2 separate regions of the Homo sapiens genome follow, and region 2 is linked to region 1. Evidence: fine-mapped expression QTL. A gene starts in region 1. The other region holds a variant in brackets. All regions are shown on one strand. Distances are between the middles of the regions. Region 1 holds the start of LIPA (lipase A, lysosomal acid type). Region 2 overlaps LIPA (lipase A, lysosomal acid type).

Region 1 (12,853 bases):
AAAGAATTTAATTTTATCATTCTTATTTAAAAAATTATTTTAAAAGTTGGAAAAATTGGGAGGCAAAAGAAAAGCTTTGAGCTAAGAAGTAAAACTTAACTTTAAGACCCTGTTATCAGGTCATACTCTCCTGGCTCACTGTGAATTTCTCTGCGAGTCCCTAAGCTTGCCTGATTCTTCAGCTGGGTCACTGCAACATCTATTTTAAAGTTGCTGTTTTCTTTAATAATTTGTACTTTACTGATATTTTGTGCCTAAATGAGGTATTTCCAGATTTTATTGTTTACTTACGATTAATAACTTTCAGATGTTTTAATTAGTCGAGTGGTTATTTTTGCATATTTTTTCTAACAAAATTTAGCTCAGATACTTTGACTTCTGTATAGAAATATGTTCCCTGGACATTCTTAATCACAACCTTTGTTCAATGTATTCTAAAACCAGCTCTCAATAGCGGTAATGTTCTTGCAAAGTTTAAATACTTTTTTATAGTTTAAACAAACTTAGTGAGACTTAAAAATGAAATGAATTAATAAAAAATCATAATTTATCTTATTAAGAAGTATATATAACATTAAACTGAGGTTTGTTGGCTACATATTACCTGGTGAGAAAAGCCTAGCAAATTGAATCTAAGATTCAGAGAAATTGGGCTGGGCACGGTGGCTCACGCCTGTAATCCCAGGACTTTGGGAGGCTGAGGTGGACAGATCACCTGAGCTCAGGAGTTCAAGACCACCCTGGGCAACATGGTGAAACCCTGTATCTACTAAATACAAAAAAAATTAGCCAGGCATGGTGGTGCATGCCTGTAGTCCCAGCTACTTGGGAGGCTGAGGCTCGAGAATCACTTGAGCCCCTGAGGCGGAGGTCGCAATGAGCCGAGATCACACCACTGCACTCCAGCCTGGGCGGGCAGGTGACAGAGTAAGACTCTGCCTCAAAAAAAAAAAAAAAAAAAAAAAAAAAAAAAATTCAGAGAAATTGAAAAGCAAAGGAGTTATAAAGAGATGAATGTATGGGTATGGCTTCATGTAGCTCACATAACTGGATCGGGGAAATAGATGCATTTTAAAAGTACATAACTTTGAGAAACTTACCACATTCATGTTTGTTTCAGGATCCACAGCTGTCAGTTTCCCTCCAGACCCCTCAGAATGCAGGGTCCAGAGAACCAAACAGACCACCAACCCCAAGAACCGCATTTTCATTCTGTATAATAAAACAGTCTATTATTATTTGCTTGAATTTTACTACACAAAAATATTCTGGTAACTTAATGCTCCCACAAAAAGTTCTGAACCAGATTTAGGGCAAGTAAAAGGTGAAAGGAAAATATGAAACAAATGACTCCAGCCATATCTGAAAGGAGAATAAGGAATTTTTAAATTTTATTTATTTATTTTTATTTTATTTATTTATTTATTTATTTATTTATTTATTTATGTTGAGATGGAGTCTTGCTCTGTCACCCAGGCTGGAGTGCAGTGGTGCAATCTCAGCTCACTGCAACCTCTGCCTCCTGGTTCAAGCAATTCTTCTGCCTCAGCCTCCCAAGTAGCTGGGACAACAGGCACGCACCACCACGCCTGGCTAATTTTTGTATTTTTGTAGCGATGGGCTTTCACCATATTGGCTAGGCTGGTCTCGAACTCCTGGCTTCGTGATTCGCCCACCTCGGCCTCTCAAAGTGCTGGGATTACAGGCGTGAGCCACCGCGCCTGCCCAGGAATTTTTTTTTTTTTTCGGAGTCTCGCTCTGTTGCCCAGGCTGGAGTGCAGTGGCACAATCTCGGCTCACCACAACCTCCGCCTCCCAGGTTCAAGCGGTTCTCCTGCCTCAGCCTCCAGAGTAGCTGGGACTACAGGTGCAGGCCACCATGCCCGGCTAATTTTTGTATTTTTAGTAGAGACAGGGTTTCACTATATTGGCAAGGCTGGTCTCAGATGACTTCGTGACCTGCCCGCCTCCGCCTCCCAAAGGAATTATTATTATTATTATTTTATATTTATTTATTTATTTATTTATTTATTTATTTATTTATTTATTTATTTTGAGGCTGAGTCTCGCTCTGTCGCCCAGGCTGGAGTGCAGTGGCGCAATCTTGGCTCACTGCAAGCTCCGCCTCCCAGGTTCAGGCCATTCTCCTGCCTCAGACTCCCAGGTAGCTGGGACTACAGGCGCCCGCCACCACGCCCGGCAAATTTTTTTGTATTTTTTTTTTTTTAGTAGAGACGGGGTTTCACTGTGTTAGCCAGGATGGTCTCGATCTCCTAACCTCGTGATCACGCCTCGGCCTCCCAAAGTGCTGGGATGACAGGCGTGAGCCACCGCGCCCGGCCCAAAGGAATTACTTTTAACTAAGAAACCTCCCACCCACCACCTCCAGTTGATATATGACCTTTGGAGTCCAGCATACCCATTCACCTCCTAACCCCAAAGTTAAAAACAAATTGGTCATGGAGAAATAACAAAAGGCAAGACTTAGAAGAGGATAGTTTGAGAAAAAGAAAGAGACACAAAATTTCTGAGCTTGCTTATTTCCCACCTCTTGCCTTCCACCTATGATTTAGACATGTTTAAGTTCAGCCACTATTAGCTCTTCCTCCTACTTATCTAACCACTATTAGCTCTTCCTCCTACTTATCTAACCACTTCTGTTCTTGCCCCAAATTATACGTCAGCATTTAAATTTGTCATTCATGGGAAAAAAGTGAAATGAAAGAAAATAGAGCTTTCAAAAGAAACAGAAAGGAAAAATTTGACCCGTCTCTCTCCTTCTGAAATTCTCTAACCATCAAATCAACAAAGACCATCTTGGTTTCTGGCAGTGATGACTCAAAATCACAGCAAAGACCTTGAGGATGCTGAAGGCAAAGTTAAATGCCTCTCCTAAGATCACGCAAGTGGTCAGAGAAAAACCTAGGACTAGATCCCAGAACTTCTACATTTTTAAAAAATAAATAGAATCACTTAAAAAGATGCAGGCATGTATGCCCATACAAAGACTTGTACATAAATGTTTATAACAGCTTTGGGTGTAATAGACAAAAACTGGAAAAACCCAAATGCTTTAAATGGATGATTGGATAAATTATGGTATATACCTACTACTCAGCTATAAAAGGGAAGGAACACAAAAAAATATAGATTAATCTCAAAATAATTATGCCAAAAGAAGCCAGATCAAAATAAGGAAAAAAAAAAGTACTGTCTGATCCCATTCATATAAAACTCCACAAAATGCAGTCTAATCTATATTCACAGAAAGCAGATCAGTGGTTTCCTGGAGAGAAGGGGCAGTAAGAAAGGATCACAAAGGGGTATGCACAAATAATATTTTGGAGGTGATGTACAGGTTCATAATATTGAATGTACTGATGGTTTCACAGGTGTGTACACATGCAAAAACTTATACAATTGTACAATTGAAATATGCCATGCTATTGTATGTCAATAATACTCCAATACAGCTGTTTGTTTTTAGTTTTGTGTTTAAACTGAATATTCCACAAGTCTTAAGAAATTGATTCTCAGGAGATTGCAAAAGTGAACTGACTCCCTTCTGTTGATGGAATTCCTCCTGGGATTATTTTTTTCCAAGAAGTAGTGAACTCTGAAATTCTTTTCTTTTTTCTTTTTTCTTTTTCTTTTTCTTTTCTTTTCTTTCTTTTTTTTTTTTGAGACAGTCTTGCTCTGTCCCCCAGGCTGGAGTACAGTGGCGAGATCTTGGCTCACTGCAAGCTCCACCTCCTGGGTTCAGGCCATTCTCCCGCCTCAGCCTCCCAAGTAGCTGGGACTACAGGCGCCCACCACCACGCCTGGCTAATTTTGTTTTTGTATTTTTAGTAGAAACAGGGTTTCACCGTGTTAGCCAGGATGGTCTCGATCTCCTGACCTCGTGATCCGCCGGCCTCGGCCTCCAAAAGTGCTAGGATTACAGGCGTGAGCCACCGCGCCCGACCGTGAACTCTGAACAGGAGCAAACGTTATCCCCTTCAGTGTGCATTGGCAAAGCAAGGCCACTGCTTCTACTTACAACTTTGTACTTCTTCATGATAGGAAGGATTGTACAGCCCCAGGCTATTTTTTATCATAAATGCAACCTCCCAAAAGTCCATTATTACTAGAGAATAAGGAGTAAATTGAAAGGGAAAAAATTAAAGGAATTACCACAATTGAAAACAGAATAGCATCTGCAGGAGCTGCTTTCATTCAGCGGTTTTCCTACAGAACCTGTATCAACCGCCCAGAGGAAGGTCCATGAGAGTAACAGCTAAAGCTACTCAGCTGAAAATCTCACCCAGTTAAGTTTTCCTTCCAACACAACACTACATACTTAGTATGTTTTTCTCAACATACTAAGCCAAGCAATTCTTACTAAGAAGGAGATACTCTGAAAATCTCGAAGGAGGGGGGAAAAAAAACCTTCCAGGCTGAATTAAGTGTGCTTTTCTGGGCTGTATTAACACCTTTATCTCAGTTATTTAGACTTTGTAACAATCTGACTCAGCTTTGTACCCCCAGGACCAAGCAAAGTGCCACGTATATATTAGATGCATAGTACAGATTCTGAAAAAAGATAAGAGCAGTCCAACAGTTCAGTGGCAGAAGAAAAGGCCCCAACGCAGCATGCTATTTAACTTTCTAATAACAACAATTATTACGACTCCCATTTAAGCTCTTGCGAGGCGCCAGCCACCGCAGGCAGCGCTTCTGATCTACTGTCAATTACTCCTCCACCGACCCTATGGCAGTACCATTAATTCCATTTTTCAGGAATCTGAGGTTCACCCAGCTGAAGTACTGGAAGCAAAGTGTCAGCTGTTTAAAAAGCAGTATCGCTGGGACTTTAACCAGGATTGATGCCCAAGTCTGCTTTCGACCACGCCGTTGGCTAACAAGAGAGGTAGGATGGGATGCCTGGAGGAGCTAAGGGGAGAGCACGAGGATGCAGAGAGAGGAATCAGACATCCCTGCTGTCCTCGCGGTCCAGGAGCACTGGGCAGCTTCACTGACCGGAGACCGCGCCTGTCCAGGAAAGTGGACAGCGCCCAGGGAAGAGAGTGGGCTTCTCTCTGAAGTTGCTCTCTGAAGTTGCCCTGGTTGATTGGCAGATGCCTTGAGCCAACGCCCGCAGAAAAAGCACCCGCAGGCACCCCAGGCAAGACTCGCTGGGTCCAAACGCAGAGGGTCTTGCCGGCCGGCAGAGCCTCGGGGCGCGACCCTCCCCTTGCTGAAGGCACCAGCTTCCACGCCGCACCCGCACCTGGCAGCGCCGCGGCGCCGGCACTCTCACCTGGAGCTGTCCTGCCGGGCCGCTGTCTCGAGTCGCAGTGCCAGCTCTCAGGGGCCGGGGTGCGGATAGGGGACCTGCAGGGGGCCTGGTCTGCCTTGTCGGGAGGGCGGATGCCCACCACCCTCGGACTATTTGTTCAGCCAATCAGAGCAGCCAGCCACCGGGAAGTGCCTCGGAGACTCCGCCCCAGACCAGCGCTGCCGCTTGCCAGCCCCCCAGTTGACCCCATAGAGCATGCGCCGTAGGCGTTTCTAAGAGATGGAGCCCGTCCTCCGCCTCGCAGGCTGGCAGGTCCACAGCTCTACCAGCGCGTCGCCTACGCATGCTCTCTTAGCAAAGGCTGTTTTAGGCGGCCTTCTGCTCCGCCCCCGAAGCTCCTGCAGGGCTGGCACCTTCTGCGCCTGACAGAGAGCATGTGGGCTCTATAAATGAAAGTGAATCATGGGCTCCATTTAAAGCGCTTATCATTGTGCCTGATGCAAAGCAATCTTGCTGCTTTAAATTTTTTATTATTATTAAAGATTTGTTAAAAGAGGAAACAATATTCAATATGTACATATTATTTATTAATCATTTTCTAAAACAAAGATTTTATTGAGCACCTACTAAATGCCAGGCATTAGTAAGACAGTGGAGGTATAGAAACCAACCAAACAAGGTTCCTGTTCTCTTGTATATATTCTGATGGGAAGAGACACATCATGAATAACTATATAATACATGAGGTGGTGATAAGTGCTATAAATAACAACAAAAACAAACAAACAACAACAACAACAAACAACAAGGGGCTGGGCACAGTGGCTCACGCCTGTAATCCCAGCAGTTTGGGAAGCTGAGGAGGGCGGATCACCTGAGGACAGGAGTTCAGGACCAGCCTGGCCAACTTGGTGAAACCCCATCTCTACTAAAAATACAAAATTAGCGGGTGTGGTGGTGTGTGCCTCTAATCCCAGCTCCTTGGGAGGCTGAGGCAGGAAAATGGCTTGAACCAGGTAGGTGGAGGTTGCAGTGAGCGGAGATCATGCCACTGCACTCCAGCATGGACAACAGAGTGAGACTCCATCCCCCAAAAAAAAAAAAAAACAGGGATAAGGAGGATGATATGTATATGGTAATCAGGAAAGGACTCTTATGAAGTGACACCTGAGCACAGGCAAGGAGGTAGTTAACAGCCTTAGATACTGGAGAAAGCACATTCTGGGTGAAAATAGCAGGTACAAAGGCCCTGTGGTAGGAATATTCCTGGTGGGTCCTAGCCAGAGTGGTGAGGTCTTTGAGGCTAAAACAGAATGTACATAGTAGAAAGTAATAGAACATGAAGTCCTAGAAGTCTGGTGCCTTGGGAGCCACTTGTCAAGATCTTACCGTGTCTTCTGAGTAAGATGAGAAGCCAGTGTAATATTTTCAATAGAAGGGCAGCATAATCTAGTTTAGAAAGATCATTCTGAACTACAGAAGCAGGGAGACTAATTAGAAGGTGTATTAGTCTGTTCTCATGCTGCTAATAAAGACATACCCAAGACTGGGTAATTTATGAAGGAAAAAGGTTTAACTGACTCACAGTTTCACAGGACTGGGGAGGCCTCACAATCATGGCAGAAGGCAAAAGGCTTGTCTTACATGGCGGCACATGTGAGAGAAAGAACCAAGTAAAAGGATTTTCCTCTTATAAAACCATCAGACCTTGTGAGACTTATTTACCACCACAAGAACAGTATGGGCTAGACTGCCCCCATGATTCAGTTATCTCCCACCGGGTCCCTCCCACAACATGTGGGAATTACAGGAGCTATAATTCAAGATGAGATTTGGGTGGGGACACAGCCAAACCATATCATTCTGCCCTTGGCCACTCCCAAATCTCATGTCCTCACATTTCAAAACCAATCATGCCTTCCCAGTAGTCCCCCAAAGTCTTAACTCATTTCAGCATTAACTCAAAAGTCCATAGTCCAAAGTCTCACCTGAGACAAGGCAAGTCCCTTCCACCTATTAGCTGGTAAAATCAAAAGCAAGTTAGTTGCTTCTTAGATACAATGGGGGTACAGGCATTGGATAAATACACCTGTTTCAAATGGGAGAAACTGGCCAAAATGAAGGAGCTAAAAGCCGCATGCAAGTCCAGATCCATCAAGGCAGTCATTTCTTAAAGCTCCAAAATGATCTCCTTTGACTCCATGTCTCACATCCAGGTCACACTGATGCAGGAGGTGGGTTCCCATGGTCTTGGGCAGCTCTGCCCCTGTGGCTTTGCAGGGGGACCCTTCCTCCTGGCTCCTTTCACAGGCTGGTGTTGAGTGTCTGTAGCTTTCCCAGGTGCACAGTGCAAGCTATCGGTGGATCTACCATTCTGGGGTCTGGAGGACAGTGGCTCTCTTCTCACAGCTGCACTAGGCAGTGCCCCATTGGGGACTCTGTGTGAGGCCTCCAATCCCACATTTCCCTTCTGCACTGACCTAGCCCAGGCTCTCCTTGAGGGCCCCACCCCTGCAGCAAACTTCTGCCTGGACATTCAGGCTTTTCCACACATCCTCTGAAATACAGGTGGAGGTTCCCAAACCTCAATTCTTGACTTCTGTGCACCCACAGGCTCAACACCACATGGAAACTGCCAAGGCTTAGGGACTGTACCCTGTGAAGCCATGGCCTGAGCTGTACTTTAACCCCTTTTTGCCATGGCTAGAGTGACTGGGACACAGGCTGGGACACAAGTCCCTAGGCTGCACACAGCAGGGAGGACCTGAGCCAGCCCACAAAAGTATTTTTTCCTCCTAGGCCTCTGGGCCTGTGATGGGAGGGGCTGCCTCAAAGGTCTCTGACATGCCCTGTCAGACATTTTCCCCATTGTCTTGGTAATTAACATTTGGCTCCTCATTACTTATGCAAATTTCTGCAGCCAGCTTGAATTTCTGCTCAGAAAATGGGTTTTTCTTTTCTATCGTATTGTCAGACTGCAAATTTTCTGAACTTTTATGTTTTGTTTCCCTTTTAAAACTGAATTCTTTTAACAGCACCCAAGTCACCATTTCAATGTTTTACTGCTTAGAAATTTCTTCCCCCAGATACCCTAAAGCATCTCCCTCAAGTTCAAAGTTTCACAAATCTCTAGGGCAGGGACAAAATGCCCCCAGTATCTTTGCTAAAACATAGCAAGAGTCACCTTTACTACAGTTCACAACAAGTTTCTCATCTCCATCTGAGACCACCTCAGCCTGGATTTCATTGTCCATATCATTATCAGCATTTTGGTCAAAGCCATTCAACAGTTCTCTAAGAAGTTCCAAACTTTCCCACGTCTTCCTGACTTCTTCTGAGCCCTCCAAACTGTTCCAACCTCTGCCTGTTACCCAGTTCCAAAGCCACTTCCACATTTTTGGGTATCTTTACAATAGCACCCCATTCTACTGGTACCAATTTACTGTGTCAGTTCTTATGCTGCTAATAAAGACATACCCAAAACTAGGTAATTTGTAAAGGAAAGAGGTTTAATTGACTCACAGTTCCACGTGGCTAGGGAGGCCTCACAATCATGGCAGAAGGCAAAAGGCACGTCTTACATGGCAGCAGACATGAGAGGATATGAGAACCAAGTGAAAGGGGTTTCCCCTTATAAACCCATCAGATCTCATGAGACCTAGTCACTACCACAAGAAAGGTATGGGGAAAACTGCCCCCCATGATTTAATTATCTCCCACTGGGTCCCTCCCACAACATGTGGGCATTATGGGAACTACAATTCAAGATAATGATTTGGGTGGGGACACAGCCAAACCATATCAGAAGGCTACCACAATAGTCCAAGTGAGAGTTAATAATGACTTGGACCAGGATGGTGATAGCAGTGAAAGTGGAGAAAAATAGGCAGCTCTAGGTATGTTTATAAAGTTGAACCAATAGGACTTGCTGGTGGATTGAATACAGGTATGAGAGGGACAGTAGCATCAAGGATGGCACTAATGGAGTTGCCATGAATTTGAATGGACAAACTACCAGGAAGAACAACTTGAGAGGGAAATTAGGAGTTTGTTCTAGATGTGTTGGTTTTGAGATGCCTTTTAGAGACCTGTGTCAACTCAGGCCATGTCAGGAAATAGAAGCCACTCTAGGCATTGCAAACAGAGGACATGGTTACACAGGTAATGACATTGCTGAGAAGACAAACAGGGTTTGGGTGGCACCACAGAAATTATTAGCAACAGTGGAAAGAGCTGGGGCATTATTGGATGAAGGAAGTGTCATACCATAGACCAGAAGTTGAGCAACAGTCTCTGTCAGAGACACTACTCATGGCCAAGAAAGAGAGGAGCTAGAAATAGCTGGACCTCCCCTTCTTTCTTCCTTCTTCCTTCAGTCTTCCACAAGTCCCTTCTGAGGATCCTAGGCAGGCTAAAGGTGGCTGACACAAGAGCCTGCAGAGGTCAGACCACTCCACCCTCCACAAGACAGAGCAGAGCAGAGGTAGGACAGGGAAAGGATTTGGAACAAAAAGGAGAAGATTGGAAAAACATCCACATGGAGATGTTGAGTAGGGACTAGGATATATAGATGTATTCAAGCTCCAGGCTAGAGATATGATTTGTGACTAATCAGATTAGAAACAGTATTTAAAGACATGAGGCTGGAGGAGATCCCCTATAAAGTAAGCATAAGTAGCAAAGAACACACGTAGAGATTCAGAAGATATAAAAGCTGAGAAGACAATGAGGTTGGAGGAGAAATGAGTGTGTTGTACTTGACATGAACTGAAGAAAGAAATTTCATGAAAGAGGAAATGATCAGCCCAGGCAAGTGCCAATGACAGCTTAAGTGAAGTGAGTACTGAGAAACGAGCAACAGATTGAGCAGCATTTCTGTGTGTCAGACATTGGGCAATATAGTTACCCTTTCTAAGCCTCAGCGTCTTCACTTGTAAAATGGGTGTATGAAGGTAGTCTTGAGGATTAAGTGAGACACTGTATGTAGAGGGCTTAGCACAATTTCACAAAAGTAAAAAGTGATGTAGCCCAAAATGCAACCCAGGCAAACTAAATCCAGGTTGTCATCCGTGAGTGAATGAATGAAAATATAACCACGAGGTTCCTTCACTCAGGTAGGGGAAGATTTCTCCTACTTCCTGCTTTGGGCCATTGTGAGCCACAGTGACTGGTGGATGACCTATACCTTTTCCAAGTTAAACTTAATAAAGAGAGAAAAGGAGACTCTACATAAGAAAATGATATTTATTCAGGTTTGCAATGTGAATAAGTGTGCCATATTATACTATGTGCATATTTAAAGAAGTTAAGACAAGGGGAAGTTTTTAAAGGCAAAATGAGAAAGAATAAATAAGTTGTTTTGAATCAATTGTCCTTGGCTACGAGGATCAATAACAAGGGTGGCATTGGTCCAAGGACTGACAGTTGCTGAATAGACATCCTTGCAGAAGTATTTTCTGTGCAAGACTGCATTTTTGGCAGTCTTTTGTGATAGTTCTGAATTTCAGGCATATGTGTGAGAATACTCCCTTTATGGCCTTCCATGGGTCCATTTGCCAGGACTTTAATATAAAGGACTTCATTTTGATTTTGACAACTTTCACAACTATAAAAAGAAAGTTTTATAGAAAACAGGAGGTAGTAGTGGTGTGTGTGTGTGTGTGCATATATGAACATGTGTGTTTGGGATGGTCACTTTATATCATAAGCCAGACTGGTGAAATAAAGACAGAAACAATACTAATAGCAGTTCTGCTTCCAGCAAAGATAGAGTAACAATGACCTGGTTTACTCTCCTACTTTAAACAGCTAAGTTGGAAAAAGTATGAAACGATAATTTCAGACATTGGACAACAAATAGTGCAAAAGAAAGAGCAATCCTTGAGAAAAGAAAAACAAATGAAATGATCCCTGCAATGCCTCAGATAATTGCCTGGACAGATTTTCCAGGCTGTAGTTTAGGGAGGCCAAATCCAAGCAAAATCCAGCAGTTTATCTAAATAGAGGAGAAAAATGAGAATTAAAAAAGCATTCTCATCTGGCAGTAGGAATTCTCTTAAGGCAGCAGAGTTGCAGGGCAGAATGCTGGAGCAGAGAGAGCTGAAGAGAGAGAGAGGCTGTGGCGAGCTGCAGATGGGTTCCTTCAAGTCTTTAACTAACAGTTTGCATGTGAAGAAACTATGCTAGACCATAGTTTAGTGGAAAGAACCACCTGCAAACGGTAAGATCCCCAAGGCTCACACAAAACTTGGAATGGTTTAAGTTACAACCAGCCAGAGTGGGAAAACATTGTAACACAGAAGGCACTCAATAAAAGATTCATAAGACTATTGTCTCAGTATTGGAGCAAGATCAGCCCTAAGTTAAGGCTGCCTTTTAAAAATAAGAATACTGAATAAGAATAAGAATACTGAATACTGGGAAGTAGACCCCCAATTGATTTTTACCAAGGTTCCATGACAATTCAATGGGGAAAGAATAATCTTTTTAACAATGGTGCTAGAACACTTGAATAGCTATATGCAAAACAATGAACCTAGACCCTTAAGTCATAGAAAAATTAACTCAAAATGGACCATACACATACATTTGAAAGTTAAAAATATAGGAGTTCCTGGAAAAAAATTGGAGAAAATCTTAAGAAATTTGAGTTTTGTCAAAGATTGTTTAAATACAACACAAAAAGCACAACCTATAAAAGAAAAAATATCAACAAATTGGACCCCTTCAAAGTAAAATAACTTTTTTTTCTAAAAAAAAGACGTTTTATAACCATGATGAGATACCACTTCATACCCACTAGGATAGCTATAATAAAAAATACAGGTAATAACAAGTGTTGATGAGGATGTGGAGAAATGTGAACCCTTGCACACTGCTGCTGGAAATGTGAAATGGTGTGGCCACTTTGGAAAACAGTCTGTCTGGAAGTTCCTCAAAAAGGTAAACATAGAGTTATCATATGACCCATCAACTGCACTTTCAAGTATATACCCAGTAGAAATAAGAACTGATGTTTACATAAAAACTTGTACATGAATGTTCATAAGAGCATCACTCAATATAGCCAAAAAGTGGAAACAACCATATGTTCATCAACTGATGAAGACATGAATAAATAAAATTTGATATGTTCATACAATGGAATATTCTTCTATAATTTAAAAATGAAGCACTGATACTAACTACAACATGGATGAATCTTGAAAACATTATGCCAAATTTAAAAAGCCACTCAAAAAAGACCCTTCCACTTGCATGAAATGTCCAGAATAGGCAAATCTCTGCAGACAGCAAGTAGATTAGTAGTTGCCTAGGGATGATGGTGGGTTGATGGCTAAAGGATGGGGAAGAAGAGGAAGTTAGGATGATGAAAATGTTCTAAAATTAATTGCAATGATAGTTGCACAGCTCTGCAAATATACTGAATGCCATTGTTCCCTTTAAATGGTGAATTGAATGGTATGCAGATTGTATCTCAGTAAGTTTTTTTAACTTTATAAAATGATTTGGTCTGCTCCTTAAAAACTAAAAACCCGATCAAAAATGAGCAAAATATTTGGACAGACATTTCAC
Region 2 (16,538 bases), 28 kb before region 1:
TATGCAAATACTACATCATTTTATATAAGGGACTTGAGTATCTGTGAATTTTGGTTTGGGGATGATGTCTGCAGCCAGTCCCCAAAGATACTTGAGGGATGACTGTATATTTTCTATTTACCCATTCTACTTGTCTAGTTATATTAGTCAAATTTTAATGATGGTATTGATTAAACACTTTTTCTTGAGTACTGGTATCAGTATAATCACCAAGTAGTACTGCATGCCAGCACAATTCTAACTAGTTAGGGATACTAGAGCCATGAAATTGAAATTGTATTGAAATTTACATTTATTCATATTTAAAATAGTATAATATAAAATATTAGCAAAATGTCACTTATTTTTAAAATTCAAAATAGTGCAAATCCATATTTCCTCTACACTCTCAAATTAAATGTATGTCAAAAATTAAACACAAAATTGGCAAGCCAAATGAATTTGAAATGGTAAGTTTTGGCCACAAGGTGGCGCCTGGTAAAAAGAAATGCTCAGACATTCTTTGTCAAAACTGCTTTTGATTTATGTGAAGTCTGTTCTAATCAACTGCATACAATTCTACTGTTTGATGTAATAAAAGACAGAGTGAGATGATATACTATAGGGGATTGTTACAGGAGAAATATTTGGCATCTGTTTTTGCCGTTGCAAATGACTGATATTAAATACCTGTGGCATATTTAACAAGCAAAACAAAATTTGGATTCACAGCACCTGTTGGTACATCTGTTCCCCATCTTTGTCAGTGAAAATATATTGATGCAAACTATTCTGCCACTGAACACAGACAGCAGTTCATCACTTTGTCACATGTCCTTCAGCATTCATATGAAGCACCAGCGTGAGCACAGAATACAAAGGTGAAACTTGCCTATAGCTCAGACTGAAGTTCTAAATTTGACTTTGTGCTAAGTCACTTAGGACTTCAAGCTATCCACTTGAAAGGATATTTCAAAAGAAAAGTATTAAGATGATTTCCAGTAACAAAAACCTGGAAATAAGCTAAAGCCCAATTTTAATAAGTAACAATCCCTTGTAGTATATCATCTCGCTCTGTGTTTTATTACATCAAACAGTAGAATTGTATGCAGTTGATAAGAACAGACTTCACATAAACCAAAAGCAGTTTTGAAGAGAATGTCTGGGCATTTCTTTTTACCGGGCGCCACCTTGTGGCCAAAACTTACCATTTCAAATAATAGATATTTGGGTAAATATGTTACATAAATATACACAAGGGGTATGCCACTGTCATAAATATAAATAAAATACAAACAGAAAATGGCTTACAGATAATCTCATAAATAATACTAAGTGGAAAAAAATGAAACCAAATATACACTAAGGTTATACTTCTGTGATAATCATATCACAGAGTATATGTAGATAATGATCAGGAGGAAATGCCTATAGTATTAGGATAAACCGTTTTAAAATGACATTTAAAAATTATATTTAGGTCTTGAATGGTAATAAAAATGTAAACGGGTTCAACTTTTCTAAAGTACAATATGTATTAGAAGTCTTAAAGCTATGCCTACCCTCTCCCTTACTAAGTCTACTGCTATAAATGTATCATCCTAAGAAAACACTCTAACATATAAGGACAGATGATTTATGACTGCAAAACAACTATCACTGCAAAAAACAAAATGATAATAAAATTCAAGCAACAGAAACTGCCCTTTATGACAAATATTTTAAAACTTTAGTTACTGACCCGGAAAGGCATTTTTAATTATGGCAGAGACTGCCACCCATTCCCATTCTTGCCTTCTTCCTTTCAGTAACAGAATCCCTAAAGCTTTCCCTAAGTACATGGCTGCCAAGATAGAAACCACATCCTCATCCTCCTGCGAGCAGCCAGGCTATGGCCATACCGCTCACTTCTAAGCTATCTCCTTCGCACAAAGTCACTTGCCCTGAGCTCCCTCTCCCCTGCCTTCCTGTGAGTTGGAAGAGACATGGAGGTGACCGGGCTGCAACCAGGCAGAAGAGGACAACACCCCGAGGATGGCAGAGCTATAGTATGGAGGGAACTGGGTCCCTGCATGGCCTCATGGAACACAGCCAAAACCCCCTCTATCATCAGTCTGGGCCACCTCTCTCTGAACTTTATTATGAGAAAGAAATAAACTCTTTATTTAGCAGCTGTATTTTGGGGTCTCTAATACAACAGCTTAACTTGTATCTAACAAATATAATGGCATTTCTTTAAATGAAAATTTACATAAAAGCAGATGTAGTATGATCTGACTTTTGTAATGGAAATGATTATATTACAAAACTGTAAGATTATACCAAAATATTAATAGTGGCTATTGCTGGGTGCTAGACATACAAGTCATTTTTCTTTCACTCATGTATTTTCTAAAATTTCATAAAACATATTACATGTTTAACAAAAATTATACTGAATATCCTTTTTACAGTGTTCTTTAAAAGCCTACCAAAAGTATGTTTTTTCCTTTAAAGAAAAAAAAAAGAGCACATCGTAATCATCTAAGGCACTTAACTCAAACATAGATCCCAGGGTCACAGCCCTAGGAATTCAGAGTCTCCACAGGTCTCAGACAGGCCCAAGAACCAGTATTTTTAATAGCACCTTAGGTAGGTCAGAACAACACTGGAAAACTACACTGGGATGGCCTTCTTCAAACAGGTGAGAGTACCTGGGCTCTGGGCAGGGCCAGTGAGAAAGTGAGAAGTAATATCAAGTCTTGGCTCTGGGGAGCTCCGAAATTCATCAGGTTTATAAGGAGAATGGAAAGATGAGTATGCTATATTTAAAATCCCGCTAAAGAACAAGGTATGGAATTTATTAACAAGTTAATCCTAATTATTTAAACAAAAAGTAAACTTCTGAATGGACTGTAAACAAAATGGCCTTTAAGGTCAACCCCAAACTCATACCATAAGAGCCCTCTAATGCCACACCTGAATTCTAGCCCCAGCCTGCCCGGCATCCAGGCCTGCCCAGCTTCCACAGAAGCCTTTTCCTGCACTGCCTCTTGGAGCCTGCAGCCTGCACCAGTGGCAGCCCCTGGCCAACAGCCCAGAGGAGGGAAAGCCAAAGGGAAGATCCGATACAATGGCTGCACAAAGCAACCAACCATTTTACTGACAAAAGATGGTACAGCGGGTAGAAGAGCAAAGGCCCAGGCTGCCTTGTACAGCAAATCTGGGCTTTGCAAATATTCTGGAGGTATATTCCAGGGTAGTTAGAATCTAAAGTCACCAGGTCACAAATGGGGCACAGAGCAGTGCTCTGGCCCTCACCCTGCAGCCTTTGACCCTGGCAAGCTGCTGGATAAGAGGGCTGGAACAAGACCAGTAGCCTAGATGATAGCCGATCCAATGTCTCTACTGCAAACCCCATGCCCAGTGGAGGCCCAAGACACAGAAGGGTGAAGCAACACAGGTCTGTAATATAAAATAGAGTTGGCCTAGGACAGCCTTGGTTTCAACATTCCCAAGGGCCTCTGACATCCCAGGTCTGGTGGCCATTTGTACTTTGCTGAGGCCTGGCGTGTACTGTGTGTGGGCTGCTGGCAGTCACTAAGCTGGTGGGAAAGCTCAGGATCTGCCTCCAGCCAGCTCAGTCACCCTCCATCATCTCTGGGGGTGCAATAACTGATGAGGTGACAGACATTGGGCCTTTTAGGAAAATGTCCATTAGGTAAGAGGTCCTAGGCATCCTCAAAAATGTAGGGGAATTCTAGTGACAGGGTATATGAAGAAAACAAGTGACTATAAGCATAAATGTGACCAAGGAGAAAAGCAGAGACCTGAACCAAGAACGAAAATCCTCAATCTTTGTGAATTTGAGGATTTTTGAAGGTTTGGGGGCATTCCTTAAGTGGTAAGCATGTGCTGTTCAGCACGTCATGAACTATTTGCATTCCAGATGCCCCTCTTTTAGGCCACAACAAACTCTGCCCCTGAGGAACTGACATTTAACTCTCAGCCTTCTAGTTACTATAAAGGACCAGGAGCCTCAGGCCAGGCTCTTCCTAGTTCCTTAGAGACGAGCCCCAGGGAAAGGAGAACTATAGCACTGTTAGAGTTCCTGGGGCAACTGAAGAAGGAGATGAAAGTATCAGGATGTCCCGAACAGGTCTGCTCCCAAACCTGGTGGAGCAAAAGAATCTACCAGGCAGATTTTTTAAAAATGCAGATCCTCAGAAATAAAAAGGAATGAACTACTGACATACACAACATAGGAAAATTTCAAAACAAGTATTCTGAGTGGAAGAAGCCAGACAAAAACAAGTATAAACTGCATGACTGTTCTCATGCAAGCTCTAGAAAATGCAAACTAAGCTACAATGACAGGAAGCAGATCAGTGGGATTGAGGGGAGGGATGGGGGGAGGTATCACAAAGGGGCAGCAGGGACCTTTTAGGATGATGATATATTTGCTGTGTCGATTATGGTGATGGTTTCACAGGTGTATACAAACACTGAAATATATCAAATTGTATACTTTAAATATTCTATGTCACTTATACCTCAATAAAAAATTTTTTTTTAAAATAATAAAACGACTCGGGAGGCTGAGGCAGGAGAATCACATGAAGCTGGGAGGCGGAGGTTGCAGTGAGCCAAGATCGCACCACTACACTCCAGCCTGGCAACAGAGTGAGAGTCCATCTCAAAAAAATAAAATAAAACGAAAAAATAAAAGTACAGATTCTCTAGTCCAAATGATTGGGACACAGGAGTATTTGTTTTATAAGCCTGGATGGTAGCCAATCCAAGAATTCCACTATAATTCCAACTCTCATTACTTTTTTAATGCAATGATTTATTAAATAGTGTACTTTTTAAAGCAATTTGGTGATTCTGATGCAAGCAGTGACTGCCAGGTGTTTGGAAATTACTATTCAAGACACCTACAGTGTCTTGGTTTAGGGCTTAAATGGTGAGTTGTTTCATATTAAAAATGAAGTTAGCTGAAAAATAAATGGCACAAAATTATGTCCTGAGGTAGAAAGAAGTCCCTGACATATTGTCAGGTGAAAAAAGAAAAGCAAGCTGTAAAACAGTAAGCAGGAGAAAAATCAATCTATTTCTACATCTACTATTTCTATCCATGTCTTTAACAGCATCTTTTTGAAAAGAGGTATAGAATAGAATGCAGAGACATTCAATATCTATGGATATGCATTTCCTCTCTGTCTAGGGTTATAGAATGATTTTATTTTCATTTTAAGATAATTTTTTTCTAGATGTAGTTTCTAAATTTTCTAGAATGAACATGACTTATTTACATGATAAAATAATCAAAACTGTATTTCAAAAGTCAGGGGCCCCCATTCACATCTATCATTGGTTTAGCTCCAGTTTATTCACTGCTATTCCAAGCATATTGTGATCAGGGGTTAGTGTTGAAACAGCGGTTTCTATCTCCAAAACGGACTTAAAATCACTCTTTATGAAGCAACACAGAAATAAAAAAAATCTAGGACTCAATGAGAAGCAGATGGAGGGGAGGAAACAGGAGGAGGAAAAGAAAGCTGGGGGAGAAGGAAAGGGAGAGAATATATTAACCTGAGACTTGAGGAAGGGAGAGGAGGGAAAAGAAAAATGTCAACCCCAGTAGCTGTTTGTGAACCCACGTATAACACAGTGTGCCCCACCACAGGTATCAAAAGCAACACAAGCACGATGACAAAAACCCAGGACTCTGGGGAAGAAAACCAGATCAGATTTGTAAGCAGGTTGTCTTTCTATTTGGAAAGGGTTTGCATGCCCAGACCTTTCTGATGTTGATTTTACATGAACCCCAAATGCACTCCTGGAATGCCTACCTGGCTCCAGTGTAACATGTTTTGCACAGAAGTTCCAGCAGGAGAATGTGTTGTATATACATCCACTCTAGACTGCAAAATAAATACATTGAAATGAAGAATGAAAACAGCATTAAGGTGGCATTGATAATAAACATTGTATTTTGCCCTTCAAAGCACTAAAAACTAGAGCCATAATCTCAAGTATGTGAGATGAGAGGTAGAAAAAAATTATTTGACTAAAAATCTGCCCTATAAAAATACATACAACCACATACAAAGTCCATATGAAGGAGGTGCAACAACATGGTAAGCACGGGACTGTGTGGGTTTCGTTTACAGGGCATTTTCATTTTGTTCTTCATGCTTTCCTGAATTTCCCAAATTTCATATAACAATCACACCTTGCTTTAATTATCAGACAAAAGAAAAATGGCACTGAAATTCCTTAGGGCCTTTATTCCAGGATTTTAACCCTTTTTTTCAAAATGCCACATGACAAACTAACAAACATATTTAGAAACACGGGCATAGTATTGGCCAAGGGTTTATATTTTATAAAATAAAATGGGTTTACATTTTATAAAATGTACTTTTATAAATACACACACACTGCAAGCATACACTTATGTGTATGTAAATGGCCGTTCCAAATTTAAATACTTATAGTAATTTTTGAAAATTTGTGTATTTTAGATTCGGGGGGTCCATGTGCAGGTTTGTTACAAGGGTGGATTGCATGATGCTGAGATGCGGGCTTCTATTGATCCCATAACCACAGTACTCAATATTGGCTATAGTACTCAACAGGCTTCAGCCCTTGTCCCTCTCCCTCCTTCCTTTTGGAGTCCCCACTGTCTATTGTTCCCATCTTTATGTTTATACTTATAATGATTTCTAAAAGAAACAAATCACTAGAGTAATTATAAATATTACAGCTTAATTTGTGACAGATCTCCTCATTCAATAATCTCCATCTAGGTACAACATAAGAAGGTGACCACAGTCAGCCTGAGGATGGCAGCAGGTGGTACCGTATTCTAGGCATTGGCCAAAGTTCATGCTTGTGCCTCTCAAATGAAAGACTCTTTAGAGTTCTGATGAGGTCATTCCCACCTCTCCCATATCATTCAACACAAATAAGCACATTCACAGATAAAAAAAAAAATCAAATCTTACTATAAACATGCATACCATATTTAAATTTCTCTCATTAAATCCACACAGAAGAAAACAGAGATTTCCACAGAGCTCCTTCAGTATGACATGAGTGCAAACGTGGGTACCCAGCCACTTCAAAAACGCACTCTGGGGAAGAAATTCTTTGTCTCCAAATAAGTCCTACAAAATAAAAAGAAACCCAAGAACATCTCAGCATTTCACTCTGGTGCATAAGTCTCCGTGACTCACCTCAGAAGCAGAGACAAGTACCCAATGTCTCCACGAATGGCCTCAGGAGAGAATGGCAACCAGTGGACATCAAATCAGGATGCTTTTGCACAAGTTTACCAAAGCAAAAATCACACACTACAGAGGTGTATTTAAATTCTCCAAATGAAGAGAAGGAGGCAGAAAATCAAATAAGTTTTCAGCGGACTTCTACAGTGGGAAAGGGCCTTAATGATCACCCCTCCCAGGGCCATCCCCAAGTAATTTTCATCTGACTCTGATGGATCGGTGGTTACTTCTAAGAAACAGTCAAGGCTGTGATTGATCAGTAATGTCTGCCAGAGGTGTGCCCATCTAATTCAATGCTACTGGCCAGCAGGCCAAATCCAGCCCATCGCTTGCTTTTTTATTTTGTTTTTTAAAATTTTTTTTATTGGCCAGGCATGGTAGCTCATGCCTGTAATCCCAGCACTTTGAGAGGCCAAGGCAGAAGGACTGCCTAAGCCTAGGAGATTCCATCTTTCCTATTTAAGTCTTCTAAATGGCCCATGAGAGACGTTATACCTCATTTCATGTATATATTTCTATACAGGATTTCATATGTGTGTGTGTGAACATATATTTCATAAAAGACATATAATGCATGCATAATAGAACATCTGGTCTTACCTAGCTTAAAACTCTTTTTCATGAAATCTATTTCCTCCCTGAACAGAGGTTCGGGTGCCACAGCTTTAGGGCAGAGCCCTGATGAAGCTACTGGCTGTGTTTAGGAGCCATATTATAAAATACAATAATGATAGCGTTGTTAGGTCACCCTCAGTGTAGCTAGGGATGGGCTTTTGGGAACATTTCCTATCTCCCATCTCCTACATCCTCTGTGCACAGGCTCACCTCATGGGATAAAGGGCAACTCCACAAATGCTTAAATTATTTTCTCCCAGACTCTCCTTGCTCTCCCTGTGAGGTGGGCAGAGCTGTACTGACACATGCTAACCATGAGTACACGTGGCACCAGTGTGCAGGAAACGACAGGCGTCCCCGGCCACCCCTGGGTCTGGAAGGAGGGGTAAACGGAAAAAGAAAAGCCCACTGCTCCACTGATATCAAAACGCAGGGGAGGAAGGCACAGATTATCCCTCCCCTTGCCATTTCTTCAGATCTCAGGAGGAAATCTGCGGGGAGAGGAGAGGGATGGGAGGGGTCCAAGTACCTTAATGAGATGATCTGGTAATCGTCCTAATTTGGCCATAGGGCTAGTACAGAAGGCGACGGAAGCCACAGGACCCAGGGCAAAAAACATTTTAATCCTTTTAGCCAGCTCAGGGATCTGTGAAAATGCTATAAAACCTGTGAGAACAAAGGACAGAAAACAGGAATTCCATCATCTGGGATTTCCTTCTCAGAAAACACAAAGGCCGTCACTCGCGA[CGCCCTCTCGCGGA/C]GGCCTGAGACCCACGCAAACAATACCACCAGCAGGAGCCAAAACACTTGACATGGGGCACTCTGAACTTCCGTGTGCCCTAACACTGAATTTGGTTAAACTAGTAAATCAAGCATTTGTTAATGCTTGCTCCAAATCTCAACCTAGATAAGCACTGGAAGAAATCCAGTCTGGGAGAATCAGAAAATCTTCCCAGTTCCTTTTACAATGTAAATAACAGACTATTTCCAAGAGCCTCACCCCATCACCTTTATCTCCCCCATGCCCCTCCCCCAAAGAACAATTTACAGACACCACGTTGAAATAAACCACCAATGATTTCAAAGGAACTCACACATTTAGAATCCCCTAGCTTTAAAATATATTTTAACCCTTGATATGGTTTGGGTGTGTTCCCACCCAAATCTCATCTTTAATTGTAGTTCCCATAATTCCCATGTGTTGTGGGAGGGACCTGGTGGGAGATAATTGAATCACGGAGGCGGTTCCCCCCATACTGTTCTTGTGGTAGTGAGTAAGTCTCTTGAGATTTGATGGTTTTATAAGGGGAAACTCCCTCACTTGGCTCTCACTCTCTCTTGTCTGCCACCATGTAAGATGTTCCTTGCTCTTCCGTCATTATTGTAAGGCCTCCCTAGCTCACAATCCATTAAACTGTGAGTCCATTAAACCTCTTTTTCTTTATAAATTGCCCAGTCTCGGGTATGTCTTTAGTAGTGGCATGAAAACGAATTAATACAACCCTCTCTGACGTCTTGCCACCTGGCCCCAGAATGTCACTTTAGGAAGCAGTGGGGCAAAGGTCCCAAGCAGGCAAGTCATGAAAGAAGAAATATAAATAAAGAAAAATGCCTAACTCCATTTTTTTCCTGGCAATATAACCACATGTTTTGAGACCCTTCAAAACATTCATACCTTTCATATAGTAAGGCTCCTTCTAGGAATATATTGTAAGGAAAGCATGTGATGGGAACACTAAGGTGTTAGTCATAGTAAACATTAAAAGGGAGAATTAAATAAATTATAGGACAGGTTCCTAGTCCCTAATTACAAAAACTCTTGCTGACTAGAATTATGGGCAATTTTTATTTTCTTTAATTTTGCTAAATCTTCTGTTCTTCTGTTTTTCTACAGTGAACATGCATTACTTATATAATCAGCATAAATTAAAATGCATATAACTTTTCAAAATTTTTTGTAAACCAAATGTACCTGTAGTTAGTTATATTCCACTTAACTTCAGAAGGCAGTATATTTTCTTGTTTTCTTTATGTAAGTCTCTGAACTTAGAAACTACTTGTTTTCTACTCTCTCACATCCCTATCTTGCTTCATCTAGGAAAACATGTAATATATTGTGGCTTACATTAATTTCTTCAATTTCAACCATATACATGAATTTTCATAGAAGACTAAATGTTACCAACATTCCTTATCTTATTCATTATTTCTGTTTGGCATTTAAAAATAAATGGAATTTGAACTAACATCTTTTTATATTTCACTTTTAAGAAAAGTACAAACTCTGTAATGAAGAATTTATATCAACTTCTGATCTTATTTACATACATACCTATAGTGGTGCCTTGAGAATGACCCACATAATACACTTGTTCTTGGCCAGTTTTATTCAGAATGAAGTTAATGGAAGCTGGTAGGTCATATTTTGCCATCTCATCATAACTGTAATCCAAGAAAGGAACTCTTTCATTGAAATAGTACATAAAATAGAGCACACACATACTGAGTATGCAGTTTGATGAGTTATCACAAACTAAACACAGCTGGGAAAACCAGCAGTGAGTCCAGGAAACAACACCAGCAGGACTGCAGAAGCCCCCTTGGGCTCTCTTCCAGTTGTGTCTCCCAAAAGTAACTATTGTCCTCATTTTTCACACCAGAAATTAGTTTCGCCTGTTTTTAAATATTTCTGTAAGTAGAATTATACAATGTGTATTCTCCTGTATCTGGCTTAATCCATTTTTTGCTGCATATAATTGTAAGTTGTTCATTCTTATTCTACTATATAAATATACAACACTTTATCCATTCACTGCTGACATGCATTTGGGTAGTTTCCTGTTTTCCGTTGTTACAAATAGCGTGACAATAAACCAATTCTTGTATATGCCTTTTGTTAAAAGCTCTCATTCTTGTGTTTCATGTCCTTAGAGGTGCCTCTGGTTTTAAAAATGGGAAGCAAGCCCGGAGGCTGCTATAGTGCTGCTGACTTTCTCTAATACCTGGTACCAAAACATAGACCAAAACCCAAGTGTGCGTATGGGTATATGCATGCGCATGTTGCCACTGGCAGGAGAAGAGCCAACCCCTAGCCAGTTCATACAAGGTGCCAGGTTCTGTGGAGGTTCCTTCTCTGCACCCTCTCCTTTAAGCCCCCAGTGACCTTATGAGGTAGGTGTTTATTACGCTCCATTTTACAAATAAGGAAACCGAGACACAGGAGGCTTATGTAAGATGTCCAATGTCATACAGCAATTAACTGGTGGAGCCAGAAGGAAGAGGGAGGAAAGGATAATTTCTGGAAAGAAGAAAAGTGAACATCTGGATTACATATTTATGGAGAAAGGAGGAAAGTTATGGAATAACGTTTACCCAGCAGCACCCACACCACCAGAAATGCCGAAGTAACTTAAGAATTCCTAACTAAATGTAAATCTTAATGTAATCATTTACTTATAATTTACCTTACTGCTAGTCATTAAATTCCTAGCAACATTTAAAACCTTTCAAAAGACACTAACTTCCCCTCTCATACAACTTCAGAGTTACCACCTATCTACCTCTTCTGCTGGAAGCCTGTTGTCTGCTTTAAGAGTACTAAGGAAATACATCCATGCCATTATCAATTCATATATACCTGAAAGCCCAGAATTCATCCTGAGAAACTGAGAGTGTCTTATGTTTCCGAGACCAGGTATTTCCTCTGCTGTTGCCCATCCACACGTCAAAACCAGCATCAGCAAGAATGAAGCCCAGGCTGCTGTTGGCAAGGTTTGTGACCCAGTTACTAGAATCTGCCAGCAAGCCATGTTGCAGGAAGACAACTGGTTTGGGACCTGAAAAACATTCATTGTTTAGGAGGCAGTAGCACCAAGCTTCAAAACAAATATGATATCTTGCTAAATAGAACATTCGTAAAAGATCCATAAGCAAATAATGAACTAGAAATAAATTGAAAGATTGACATAGTGATGTACTCACATATAATGTTAGTAAAGAATTTTTTTAAAACAGCACTGGCAAGGTAGCAGTGAAACTGGACCATTTTTTGCATGTCCACTAACAAGACACACTTATGTAAGCAGCAAAAACAAAAATCAATATATTTTTAAGAAATTATAAAATGTTTTTACAATTTTTTTCTTATAAAATGTTTTTACAATTTGCTTTCGTAATTGCATTTCTCACAATAATTCCTAACAAAATAAACAAAAGGAAAGAAAAAGATCACACATAATGAGACATCACTATACACGTATCAGAATGAGCAACATCCAAAAACGCTGAAAACACCAACTGCTGAAGAGGATGTGGAGGAACAGGAACTCTCATTCATTGCTGGTGGAAATGCAAACTGGTAGCACCACACTGGAAAAGTTTGGCAGTTTCTTACAAAACTAAACATACTCTTACCATATAATCCAGCAATCACATTCCTTGGTATTTTACCCAAAGGAGTTGAAAACTTACATCTACACAAAAACCTGCATACAGATGTCTATAGTAGTTTTACTCATAATTGCCAAAATTTAGAAGCAACCAAGATGTGCTCCAGTAAATGAATGCATAACTAAACTGTGCTACATCCAGACAATGGAGTATTACTCAGCCCTAAAAGGAAATGAGCTATCAAGCCACAAAAAGATGTAGAGGAACCTTAAATACATATTACCAAGATCTGTAAAGGCTGCATTCTATATGACATGCTGGAAAAGACAAAACTATAGAGAGAGTAAAAAAGATCCTGGTTGCCAGGGGTTAGGAGGGAGGAAGGAATTCATAGACAGAGTAAAGAGGATTTTTCAGGGCAGTAAGACTACTCTGCATGATACTATAGAGGTAGACACATGCCATCATACATTTGTCCAAAACTATAGAATATACAACATCAAGAGTGAACTGTAGTGGCCGGGTGTGGTGGTTCATGCCTGCAATCCCAGCACTTTGGGAGGCTGAGGCGAGTGGATCACTTGAGGTCAGTAGTTCGAGACTAGCCTGGCCAACATGGCGAAACCCTGTCTCTACTAAAAATACAAAAAAGGTAGCTGGGTGTGGTGCCCCACACCTGTAATCCCAGCTATTCAGGAAGCTGAGGCAGGAGAATTGCTTGAACCCGGGAGGCAGAGGTTGCAGTGAGCCAAGATTGCACTGCTGCACTCCAGCCTAGGGGACAGAGGGAGACTCAGTCTCAAAAAAAAAAAAAAAAGGGAACCCTAATGTAAACTACGGACTTTGTGTGAATGTAGGTTCATCAGCTGTAACAATTACAATTCCACTCTGTGAGGGATGTTCATAACAGGGGAGTGTGGGGGCAGAGGGTGTATGGGAAATCTCTGTACCTTCCACTCAATTTTGCTATGAACTTAAAACTGCTTTAAAAAATAAAATTTAATAAAAATTTTTAAAGCTGAATAAAAGTTAAATAGATAAAAAGGCTCACACACACAAATTCATAAATATATGTGTCTGTGTCTGCCTGTGAGAATTTATTTTCTACTCACCTGTACCCGAGACAGTGATATAGCAGAAAAAACAAAGATGTGGGAGCCAAAGAAACCTGACCTCAAGCTGCTTACCTAACGCTGAGACCATTCAGTTATTCATGAAACAAGCCTTTATTGAGTACCAACTATGTGCCAGGCCTTCTTCTCAGCACTGAGAACACAGCAGAGAACAAAAACAAGAGGAAAAAAAGTACCTCCATGGAGCTGACATTATACTGACCATGAGTTTTATCCACTTATTTGATTGATTGATTGATTGAGATAGGATGTTGCTCTGTGACCCAGGATGGAGTGCAGTGGCGTGATCTCTGCTCACAGCAACCTCCACCTTCTGGGCTCAAGTGATCCTTCCATCTCAACCTCCTGAGTAGTTGGGATTTCAGGCGTGCACCAACACACCCAGCTAATTTTTGTGTTTTTTGTAGAGACAGTGTTTCACCATGTTCCCAGGCTGGTCTCAAACTCCTGGACTCAAGCGATCCACCCACCTCGGCTTCCCAAAGTGCGGGGTTTACAGGTGTGAGCCACCACGCCCAGCCCGATCATGAGTTTTAGACAGCTCAAACAAACCTAGGCTCAACTCTGTCCTCTCCAAGTTCTAACATGACACCTTGGGGAAACATCTCCTAAAATTAATATAATTCCCTGAAGAGTAGAAATGATAATACACATTTTATAGGACACAGTGAGATATGAGATATTATATGAAAAGTAGGTAGCAAAGAGTCTGACACACAGTAAGAGTTCACTATATATCAACTCATACTATTAAGTTGCTTAACCAGTCTGCGTCTCAGTTCCAAAAATAATTGTTAAGAGGAATAAGTGAGGTAAGTATCCAGTATAGTGACTGACACACGGGTCACAGTGAACAAATGAGAGCTTCCTTTGCCCTCTGCTCATTCTTTATAACAGTGAAAAACTGGAAATAAGCTAATTGTCAAGTGGTCAAATAATTCATTGAAATCCACTTGGTATAATAATTATCCATCAACCATGACAAGGACAGTGACAGCATAGAAAAGCTTATACCTTGCAAAGGAAAAAAAAGCAAAATACAAAATTATAGACTACTCTAAATTACAGCTGTGCAAAATTAATGTACACCAAAGAGGAGTGTAAAATACCAAGGAAAAATGAGAAGAATGATTTGTCCAGATGATAAGACTATAAGTGAATTGACAAATGTTCATTTCTGCTAATGTCCTAATATAGATTTGATAACTAGCAAATTGTTTTTAAATGACAGTTCTGCTGCAAGGTAGCTTCCGTAGACTACTCCGGAAGGCACTGCTCACATACATGAAAATATACATGGTACTCCCTGGAGTTGTACAACCTGGGGGTGCTATACCCTCGTGTTGTTAAAATAGCAGGACCCCAGGCCAAGAGTATAAAATGATTCCCATAACTTTTTTTTTTTTAAGAGAGAAAAGGTCTCATTCTATCACCTAGACTGGAGTGCAGTGGCATGACTGCTCACTGCAGCCTCAAACTCCTGGACTCAAGTGATCCTCCCACCTCAGGCCCCTGAAGAACTGGGATTACAGGTGTGTACCACAACATCCAGCCAATTTTTTAAAAAACTTTTCATAGAGATGAGGTCTTACTATGTTGCCCAGGCTGGTCTCAAACTCCTGGCCTCAAGTGATTCTCTCGCCTTGGCCTCTCAAAGTGCGGGGATTACAGAAGTGAAACATCATGTATGGCTGGTGTGATTTTCTAATCACAAAATAGAAATGCCAGGGCCATGCAGGTGAACTTCTACCCATGGGGAGAAAATAGAAAGCAAACTGGACAAGATTAGGGCTGCTTTATGTGCTCATCTTTGCCTTCAAAGGTTCATTTTAATGCAATATTAACAAGACTAAATTTACTACGAAAAATGTAAGTGGAAGGCATTGTGGTAGATACAGCGTCTTATGCACAGGCTTCTTGGCTTCAATGAAGAGGATGATAATCCAGCTGGGAAAATATGAAAATTGATCATTAAAAATCCAAAATTATAAACTGCAGTGTAAGTGACAATTATAATTACCAAAATTAATTTATCATTAAATTATAGTTGAAAAATGTGTAACTACAGGCACCATCATCATCTCATGGTAACTGTACGTGAGAATGGTGACCGGGCGCTGTACGATGCAGTGGCTCTGCTGTACTGATGGTGCCCAACACTTTCTAGAAAGAGGGGCTTTCCTGCTCATGTCACAGCTCTTTAGGTATGTTGAGGCACTTTTCACCCACCAGGAGTGATCAGGAGCTAGGCCATGAGTAAGGTGACTTGACTTTGAAAGGCCAGGAACGGGCTGCTCCCACAGGTCAGGTCATTTCCAACAAAAACGACTGCAATCGTCTTCCCTCAGGATGGAGAGTCAGAGAGAGGCAAGAGGAAGGCTCGGTAGGTGGCCTAATTCCTTGGCACTTGTTCCAATCTGTGCCTCTGTAGTTAACACGGAAAACATGGGACTGCCTAGTCTACTCCTCAGGGGAGAGTGTCCAGAGAAAGGCAGGAATGGTTTGAAACCAAAGAGGGCCCTGGGGCAAGGATAATTGAGAGAGGAGAAGGAGGGTGATATGTGGCAGCCAGGCCAGGACAGAGGCTGGAAGGGGAGATGTTGGCCAGCACATGGGACCAGGACTCAGCTCCCCACCTTCTCTCGATGGAGAATGTTTAAAATTTCCCTAAAGTCTCTGTACTTCCCTCTGTAACCTCTAGAGCTTTGAATGGGGAAATGTGGAAGCTGACAAGTTGAAGATACATCAGGAAAGTCTTTAAACATCCCCAATAAATAACTCCTGGATTCCCAAGGGCAATGAGGAGCTGCTGCAGTTTTCCTGGGAGGTGAGTGTGAAGAAAGGAATGGCCTGTGGACAGCTGGAGCATGTGCTACCCAGGAGACCACGCCTAAGGTGGCTGTGCAGCTTCTAAGAACATCGGTAAATACCCTTGTTCCACCCAGACCGAATTCACACCTGCACAACGCTTTTCTCAGGGAATTACTTTATCCTTTGAAGGAGGCTTCCAGAGAATAAGTCAAAGACACTATTTTTCTAATTGTCCTTTTTTGTTTGTTAGGGTTCTTCCATCCCCTACTTCAAGCTGAATACAAAAGCTCAATGAACAACAGGCACAAAAGATGCAGCAGATGGGAAGGAAACAGTGAAT

Evidence for each region.
Region 2: its variant is fine-mapped to the expression of LIPA in skeletal muscle (GTEx, PIP 0.91).

Annotation. Positions count from the first base shown.
Region 1 is chr10:89,246,438-89,259,290 of GRCh38, forward strand. LIPA (lipase A, lysosomal acid type) reads right to left here and starts at 5,338. Exons shown (of 10, transcript NM_000235.4): 1 at 5,300-5,338; 2 at 1,101-1,212. The coding sequence starts at 1,211. RefSeq lists enhancers at 2,607-2,696, 5,365-5,424.
Region 2 is chr10:89,216,698-89,233,235 of GRCh38, forward strand. It overlaps LIPA (lipase A, lysosomal acid type), which reads right to left. Exons shown (of 10, transcript NM_000235.4): 4 at 11,503-11,701; 5 at 10,198-10,307; 6 at 8,395-8,531; 7 at 6,987-7,133; 8 at 5,814-5,885. Among named protein-coding and RNA genes, the nearest start is that of CH25H, 18 kb to the left of the region's middle. The variant CGCCCTCTCGCGGA/C (reference allele first, on the strand shown) is at 8,613.